Homo sapiens: one gene and its partner. The protein of the gene in region 2 interacts with the protein of the main gene of each other region in a pairwise test. Each region holds a gene or a part of one and is shown on either strand. Other genes may lie near its edges.

Evidence for each region.
Region 1: the proteins of L1CAM (region 2) and PLXNB1 interact in a two-hybrid assay, tested with the Homo sapiens proteins (one study listed by BioGRID).

The regions. Positions count from the first base shown.
Region 1 is NC_000003.12:48,409,312-48,413,118, forward strand, and holds part of PLXNB1 (plexin-B1 precursor), read right to left. Parts: coding exon 3,758-3,807; intron 3,649-3,757; coding exon 3,431-3,648; intron 3,310-3,430; coding exon 3,131-3,309; intron 2,994-3,130; coding exon 2,927-2,993; intron 2,699-2,926; coding exon 2,552-2,698; intron 1,726-2,551; coding exon 1,557-1,725; intron 1,248-1,556; coding exon 1,144-1,247; intron 1,073-1,143; coding exon of another isoform or gene 1,070-1,072; coding exon 985-1,069; intron 767-984; coding exon 594-766; intron 421-593; coding exon 260-420; intron 166-259; coding exon 18-165; intron 1-17. UniProt on the Homo sapiens protein: Receptor for SEMA4D. Plays a role in GABAergic synapse development. Mediates SEMA4A- and SEMA4D-dependent inhibitory synapse development. Plays a role in RHOA activation and subsequent changes of the actin cytoskeleton.
Region 2 is NC_000023.11:153,876,015-153,879,821, forward strand, and holds part of L1CAM (neural cell adhesion molecule L1 isoform 1 precursor), read right to left. Parts: intron 1-3,807. UniProt on the Homo sapiens protein: Neural cell adhesion molecule involved in the dynamics of cell adhesion and in the generation of transmembrane signals at tyrosine kinase receptors.

The DNA of each region.
Region 1 (3,807 bases), on a different chromosome or scaffold from region 2:
ATCCCAGACTCGCTCACCCGGCCCAGCTTGTGGTCGGCCAGGGTGCAGGCGTCCATGAAGGTCTGTGCAATGACAAGGAGCACCGCATCCATGTTATCAGATGTTTGCACGTCGAACACAAACTGCGGGTTTTTTATTATATTGATCCAGAACCTCAGAGGCAAGCTGCGGGTGGGGCAGGCATGGCCGATGAATGTGCTGGGGAGGCAGAAGAGAAGACCCCCCACACACACCTAGAGCCCACCCAGCTCCACCCCACCTGTTGGTCTTCCAGATGTGGATGGTGTCCTGGTCGGAGATGCCATGCTGCTGGGCCTGCTCATCCAGCAGGTCAAAGAAGTACTTCACAGCGAGCGGCACGGGGCGGCTGGTGCTGAGAATCACCTGGAACAGGTCATCCACGAACTTCTGCAGGGTGCCCTGTGGGAAGGAAGAAGCAGAGAGGTGTGGTCAGCAAAGGGCCCTCAGCAGCAGCCCAGCCTCAGACACCCCCCGGCACTGTGCCTGCACGAGCCCCACACCACCCCCAAATCCCACGAGTGGCCATGCTCCCTCTCAGCCCAGGCCCCACTACCTTGGCAGCCCCACCCCACCTTCATGGACAGCAGGCGGGTCAGGTAGATCTCAGGGATGGCCTTGGCGCGCTCACGCTCCCCGCCCCGAAGGCTGCCCCTCCGAGGCCTGGGCGGCTCCGGCTCATCACTTGGCTTCACCAGGTGCCAGGGCCGGATGCCCCCCTCATCTACATCCTCCAGCATTGGGGTCCCTGTGCCAAGAGCCCACAGCTGTCACCCCTCCCCAGGTGCCACCTCCCCAGGCCCCCTGTTTCTTGCCAGCTCTCCCAGGGGTGGGGGCACCTGGTTGAGGGATTTCCTGGGCCGAATGGAAATAGGCACAAGCCTGCCCTGAGGCCCAGAGGACCTTCCCCATGACTCCGGGCTGGGCACAGCAGGGGCAGAGGACCGTGATGGGAGCGGTACTCACGCTCTCCAGGGACATAATCCTGGTTTTCCCGGAGCACATGCTTGGTGAGGCAGGGGACGAGGGCCACAGTTGCTCCATCTGGGACCTGCTGAGCACAGCTGGTGATCCCTCCACCAGTCCCACCCCACCATGCCCTCCTCCAGCTCCCACTCCTCCTACCTTGTAATGCTGCAGTGTGTTCAGGCGCCTCCACAGACCCTGGACCTCAGAAGTGACATCCTCGTCAGAAAGAATGAGGTGCCCGGCCACCCCAGACCGCCACTCTGCAAGGGCAAGGCAGAACTGGGTGCAGGGCTGGAAGATACCCTTCCCATAGTGGAGCCCATCTCCTCCTCCACAGGGACACCAGCCCCTCCATCATGGGGCAGCCTTACTCAACCTCTCCAAAGACCAAGAGCAGGGACCCCCTCCCCAGATGAGAGGCTGTCCAAGAAAGATGTTCCAAAGCCAGCTTCTGCCTGCCTCCCAGCATCCTCCCCACCCTGAGTGATGAGTTGTCCCTGCAGAGTTGGTCCGGGGCCAGCCCAGGCCCAACAGTGGCTCAGGTCCCCAGGGGCTCTCCACGCCCTCACCAACATCAAGGGTGCGAGGGTCTGGCCGCTGGGTGAGAGGCACTCCTTTATAAAGCTGGTCCAGCATCTTCTCCTTTGCCTGGGAGATGGTGTCACAGTCTAGGACCTTCACGGGCACGCCCTGGGCCTCTCCTGCCCCAGGCCCCACAGCCAATAGTGCATTCAAGGTCTGTGCAGGACACACAGGAGCCATCAGGGTTCATGTGCACTCAGGATGACCAAGACACAGGCCAAGGGCAGAGACAACTCATGAGAAACTGCTGCCTCCAATCCCCACGCACCACACAATCCCTAATTCTCGTCTCTTCACCTGCCTGCCTTCCCCAGGGACAGCAGCTTCCTCCCCATTGTGACCCCAGCACCTAGCGCAGTGCACTTGTAAACCACTATGGGGTAAATGGCAGAAAAAAATGAGTGAGCACAAGTCCCTCATCACTCAGATCCCCAGGTTCCTGGCTGAATGGGTCAGGCTGACGGAGTTTCGGGAAGCCTGCATTCCCACCATCGGGAGCAAATATTCCCACCTATCCGACAGGGGAGGGGTTCAGCAGGCCTGAATGGGGGTTTCCCACAGGAACCCTTGTGCGTAACTAAGGGGAAAGCAAACCCAGAGAGAAGTGCCTGCCAGAGTGAGGCTGGCTTGGTGGGCAAGGCCGCATTCCTGGTAGGAGGGCCAGGCAGACAGGGTCAGGCCCTGACACAGCTCAAGCCCATGGTCTAAGGTAGGGCTGGCTTCTCCCAAACCCTGGTTGTGGCTACCCTAGTTCCATCCCTAGCCTGGGGCACATAGAGGCCTTATCATCAAAGTCTGCCCTAAACTGCTATCCTGCTAAGCTAGTCTGATGGGCTCTCTCCAGGAGCCAGCCAGAGGTCAACCCAGCTCTACATCCAGGTACCACATCAGAAGCTGGTGTCCAGACCCCACACACCCACACACTCTCCACCCTCGCCCTCACCGCACTCAGACTGCAGGCCACACACTTGCACACCCTCACCAGGGGACGGTACTCCACATCCTCTCTGAGCAGGCGGTTGTCGTTCAAGGTGTATTTGGCCTTGCCTGTCACACTGTCCACTGGCCCCTTATCCACTTGGTGCTTAATCCCTCGAAAGAGCATGTACAGAGGCTCCCCTACGGAGTCCTAGGAGAGCACAGGCAGTTAGGGCCCCCCAGCAGGTGGCAGAGGTGTATGGGACATGACGCACACTGGGGAAGGGGACAGGACATGGGCTTAAGGGGACTGAGGACAGGCTGAGCAGGAGTCTCTGCTCTGGCACAAGTGTCCGAGCTGCATGGTGGCTGAGGGCTTAGAAGTTTGGAGGGCCTGACCCTCCCTGGACAGGAGCCCTGTCCACCTCTGCCCCCTCACCCTCACGAAGGTATACAGACAGATGGACATCCAGTTGGTGAGCAGCTTCTCCACCACAGTCTCTGTCCTGAGATGATGGGAAAGGGGAGTGCCAGGGTCAGCAGGTGGGGCTGCGGGCCTCTCTATCCTGCAGACCCCCCAGCCCGAGGCCCCACCCCAGCTCCAGCTGTCCAGGGCCCACCCAGCCCCAACAGCCACACAGACCTGCGCAGCATCAGCTTGGGGTTCTTGGCCACATACTGGGCAACCAGGTCACTGAGCAGAGTGCGGAGGATGTCAGTGAAATACTCAAGCTTCCCATGCAGTGCCACGGTGAGCAGAGATGCCACGTAGGCACGGTCCCGAGCTGAAAAGGTGCGCTGGCTCTCCAGCGTGTGGATGAACTGCAGCCAAAGAGAAGGGATGGGAAAAGGGGTTTAGGGGGACAGAGGGGCGGGCTCAGAAACCATGCCCTGGAGAAGGGGCAGGGCCAGGGGCAGGCCAGGAAGATGCAGCTGGGGGTACCTTGGTGAGGAAGAGCTTGCTGTTGAGCAGGTTAGAGAGCTGCCCCAGCCCTTGCTCCACAGTGGGCCGTCTGCTCTCAGGCACACCCAGGTCCCGGTGCAAGGGCGACTCGCGGTGCCCAGGGAAGAAGATCCTCTCCGCATACACCTTGTAGTCGAGGAAGGGGATGCCGCTGCCCAGGAGGTCACTGGTGAGATCGGTCATCTCAGTCATGAGGTCTGTTAAGCAGAAGAGGCCAGGTTAAGCACCTGTTAAGCACCAATCCCGTGTGATGGGAGTGGGTTTGGGCAGAGTTCTGGAGGGCGGGGCCCATTCTCTCAGCCACACCTGTGAATTCCTTCTTGCAGCGGTCCCGCACACTGCTCTCCAGATTCTCC
Region 2 (3,807 bases):
AACATCTGGGTAAGCCCGGGCTCTTGGCCCCGCCCTCAGCCCCGCCCCCAGCTGGCCGGCTTCTCCAGCCCTCCCCTCCCCATCCGCACCCCTCCCCACCTTGGAGGGAGAAATCTGGAAGAGATAGCCCTGGCTGGGCCTCTAGGTTGCCTTTTATTCCCTCTCTACTCTCTGTCTGCACCTTTCCTGCCAGCTGCCTTCCCAGCACCAACTTGTTGCCCCATCAGCTCCCCTGTGCATGGCATGCACATCCCCGTATGTGTCTGCATGTGCAGGTGTCCGTGGGCATGTGTGTGGTTGTGGATCTGCAAGCAGGGAGTGAGCTGTATGTGAGCTGGTATTTCTGTGGTGTGTCTTCTCTGGGAGGGGTTGCACTCATGAGTGGGTGTGTTAGTGTGTGTGCCTGAGGGAATCAACACACAAGTCTGCTAGCTACGTGTGTCTTCTTGTATGTCTTTATGTATCTGTGGGGATGAATCCCTGTATCTATTATCTCTGTGTGCACACACATGTAGAGAAGAATTCTTCTTGCAGTCACATTGCTATAGCTTTCAGAGCCAACTGATGCCTGGGTGCTGTACAGACCTAAAAAGCTAATGGGGGGATTGGGAAGTGGGATAGAGAAGGGAGGAAAGGGGCCCAAGATGGCAGCATTTCACAAAATAGTTTCAGGAAAATGAAGAAAGAATGGGGAAAGGGCCAGGCGTGGTGGCTCACGCCTGTAATCCCAGTAGTTTGGGAGGCTGAGGTGGGTGGATCTCTTGAGGTTGGGAGTTTGAGACCAGCCTGGCCAACATGGCGGAACCCCGTCTCTACTAAAAATACAAAAAGAAAAAAAATTAGCCTTGGTGGTGGGCGCCTGTAATGCCAGCTACTTGGGAGGCTGAGGCATGAGAATCACTTGAGCCTGAGAGGCGGAGGTTGCAGTGAGCCAAGATCGTGCCACTGCCCCCCAGCCTGGGTGATGGAGTGAGACTCTGTCTAAAAAAATAAATAAAAATAAAAATAAAAGGCCAGGCACAGTGGCTCATGCCTGTAATCCCAGCACTTTGGGAGGCCGAGGTGGGTGGATCACCTGAAGTCAGGAGTTCAAAACCAGCCAGGCCAACATGGTGAAACCCTGTCTCTAGTAAAAATACAAAATTAGGGCTGGGCGTGGTGGCTCACGCCTGTAATCCCAGCACTTTGGGAGGCTGAGGCAGGCGGATCATGAGGTCAGCAGTTTGAGACCAGCCTGGCCAACATGGTGAAATCCTGTCTCTACTAAAAATACAAAAAAAAAAAAAAAAAAAAAAAAAAAAGCCAGGCGTGGTGGCTCATGCCTGTAATCCCAGCTACTCAGGAGGCTGAGGCAGGAGAATCACTTGAACCCAGGAGGCAGAGGTTGCGGTGAGCGGAGATTGCGCCATTGTACTCCAGCCTGGGTGACAGAGCAAGACTCTGTCTCAAAAAAAAAAAAAAAGTTAGCCTGGCGTGGTGGTGCATTCCTGTAATCCCAGCTACTTGGGAGGCTGAGGCAGGAGAATCTCTTGAACCCAGGAGGCGGAAGTTGCAGTGAGCCAAGATCGCACCATTGCACTCCAGCCTGGGCAACAAGAGCGAAACTCCATCTCAAAAAAAAGAGAGAAAGAATGGGGAAGGAAGCCTTCCCTTGAGAACTGGTGTGGGAGAAGAGAGGAAGGAGGAAAACAACCCCCTGCTGCTCCTCAGCCCCCTGGGGGTCAAGAGAGGCCACTGAGGCCTCCTCCCTTCCAGATGCTCCAGGTTAGGGTCAGGACAGGGGTCAGGACAAGCTCTGGGACATTTTCCGTGACAGTGTTTCTAACACTTCTTGTGTGTCTCAAAGTCCCAATTTCTAGGTCTTTGTCTGAGTCTTCAGAGCTCAACTGCTGCATGTGTCCACCCCAAACCCAAGCCACACCGGCCATGTCCATATTCACCTACAAGTAAGGGGAGCCAAAGACTAAGGGTCTGAAAGAGGGGGCTCCTCTGACAATGACAAGAGGAAACAGACTCCCAAGTGGCCAGACCACTTCAATTCCAAACAGGAAGTGGTTAAAGTGCAGGCAAGGCAAGAAAGGGTGTTGTTAGGTGACAGAGCTTGGAGGCTGAAGTCCCAGACTAGACGCCTTCATTAAATCCATACTGTGCATCCTCCCTCTGCCCAGCCAGGACCTTATCAAAGCGGGCACCGAGCCTCAGCAGGAACACCGAAAGGATGGTAGAGAAGTCAGCCATGCTGTGCTAAGGCTCTGGGCCTTGTCAGTTTTGTGTAACAGAGTGACCCAAGAAGAGCTGTGAATGCGGCAGATCCCGTGGGGACTCTGGGCAAGAGCTTGCTGCAGAGGGTGGTGGAGAAGCAGCAGGGTGGGTCAGCGTGCATGGCCTGGAGGCCAAGAGATGACTTGGAGGGTAAGAAGAGTGATTCCCAGCCTGCAAGAGCTGGACCTGGGCCCAGAAGGGAAGAGCAACAGTGGATCTGTTCCACCCCGGCCTCTCCCTACAAAGCCAGTGGATCAGGGGAGGCCCCAGGCAGCACTGGCCTCAACTTCAAGGCCTGTAGGAGCAGTAGGAGACTCGGATCAGAGAGCAGATGATCAAACAGCAGCCTTGGGAGCTCTGAGCACTGGTCTTAGGAGGGGGAGGGGAGGAAACCGGAGCAAGGAAAAGCTCAAAGAAGGACCCTCCTGCATGTCAGAGGCTTTTGGGTGCTCTGGAGGTCGATAATTTCTGCCACGCAAGTTCCTCTATTTGTCCTCCAAATCTAGAATCCTGGAATGGTGTTTGGCATGTACGCTCAGGGGAAATACAATATCCCCAAACCCCTGGTCCCCGCTCCCTGCCCCATCCCAGCCCCATCCCATCTCCCCACAGGCTCATATCCAACTTCTTTTTTGGTCTCCCAGTATTTGCCACCTAGCTTGCCACCGCCCTGGGCAGTCGGAGACAGGCAGGAAGCAGCCAGAAGGTTGCGAGATATAACAGCTGGGAGGGGGCGCTCCCTCCTCTCCTCCCACTGCTGCTGGGTCTCTGATCTCTCACCATTCCTCAGGCAATTACAGAGCAAGCAGCTAGGGTTGTCAGCTCAGCAGGCCCTCTACCCCCCACCAGCACCACTAAGGGCAAAGGAGCGGGGAGGGGGGAGTGTTCCACAGATGGAGCCAAGGCCGGGTCTGCCAAGGGTGACAGACAGAGTGAGAAGAGGCAGGGGGGAGCAGGAGACAAAGACAGACGTAGGAAGACAGCGCTAACCACGATGGAGATGGTTAGGGGGTGGGGAAATTCCGAAACGGAGACCCAGGCAGCAGAGAAAGGGAGAGAAGAGGAAACCGGAGCACAAAGGGTGAGAGGCAGCTGCAGAGTGCGCCGCTGAGAAATGGCAGAAAGAGCGAGAAGAGTGAGGGGTGGGGGTGGGCGTGTGCACGTGCGCGTGCGCGCAGGCCGCCTGCACAGCGTCCTTGTCCCTGGGGGCTGTGCCAGGCAAGGGGCGGGGAGGAGGGAAGATGGGCCTGGGTCAGTGGAGGGGCTTCCCGGCGTGGACGTCACGCTGGCCTGGGAGCAGGGTAGAGAGACAGACAGAGGGTGGAGCAGCTGTGAGCTGGGGCCGGAGGGGCCTACAAAGCCCCACGCAACAGAGCATCAAGGCCCTGCCCACTTGTGGCACTGGGCAAGGGACGGCCGTGAGACAGGATGAATGGCACACTGCTGGCTGACCCATGCCATGCCAGGGAACAGGTGGGGGTCGGGGGATTCCTGCTGCGGGTAGGAACGGGGGGAGGGGGAAGCACCCAGAAAATCCCAGGGAAG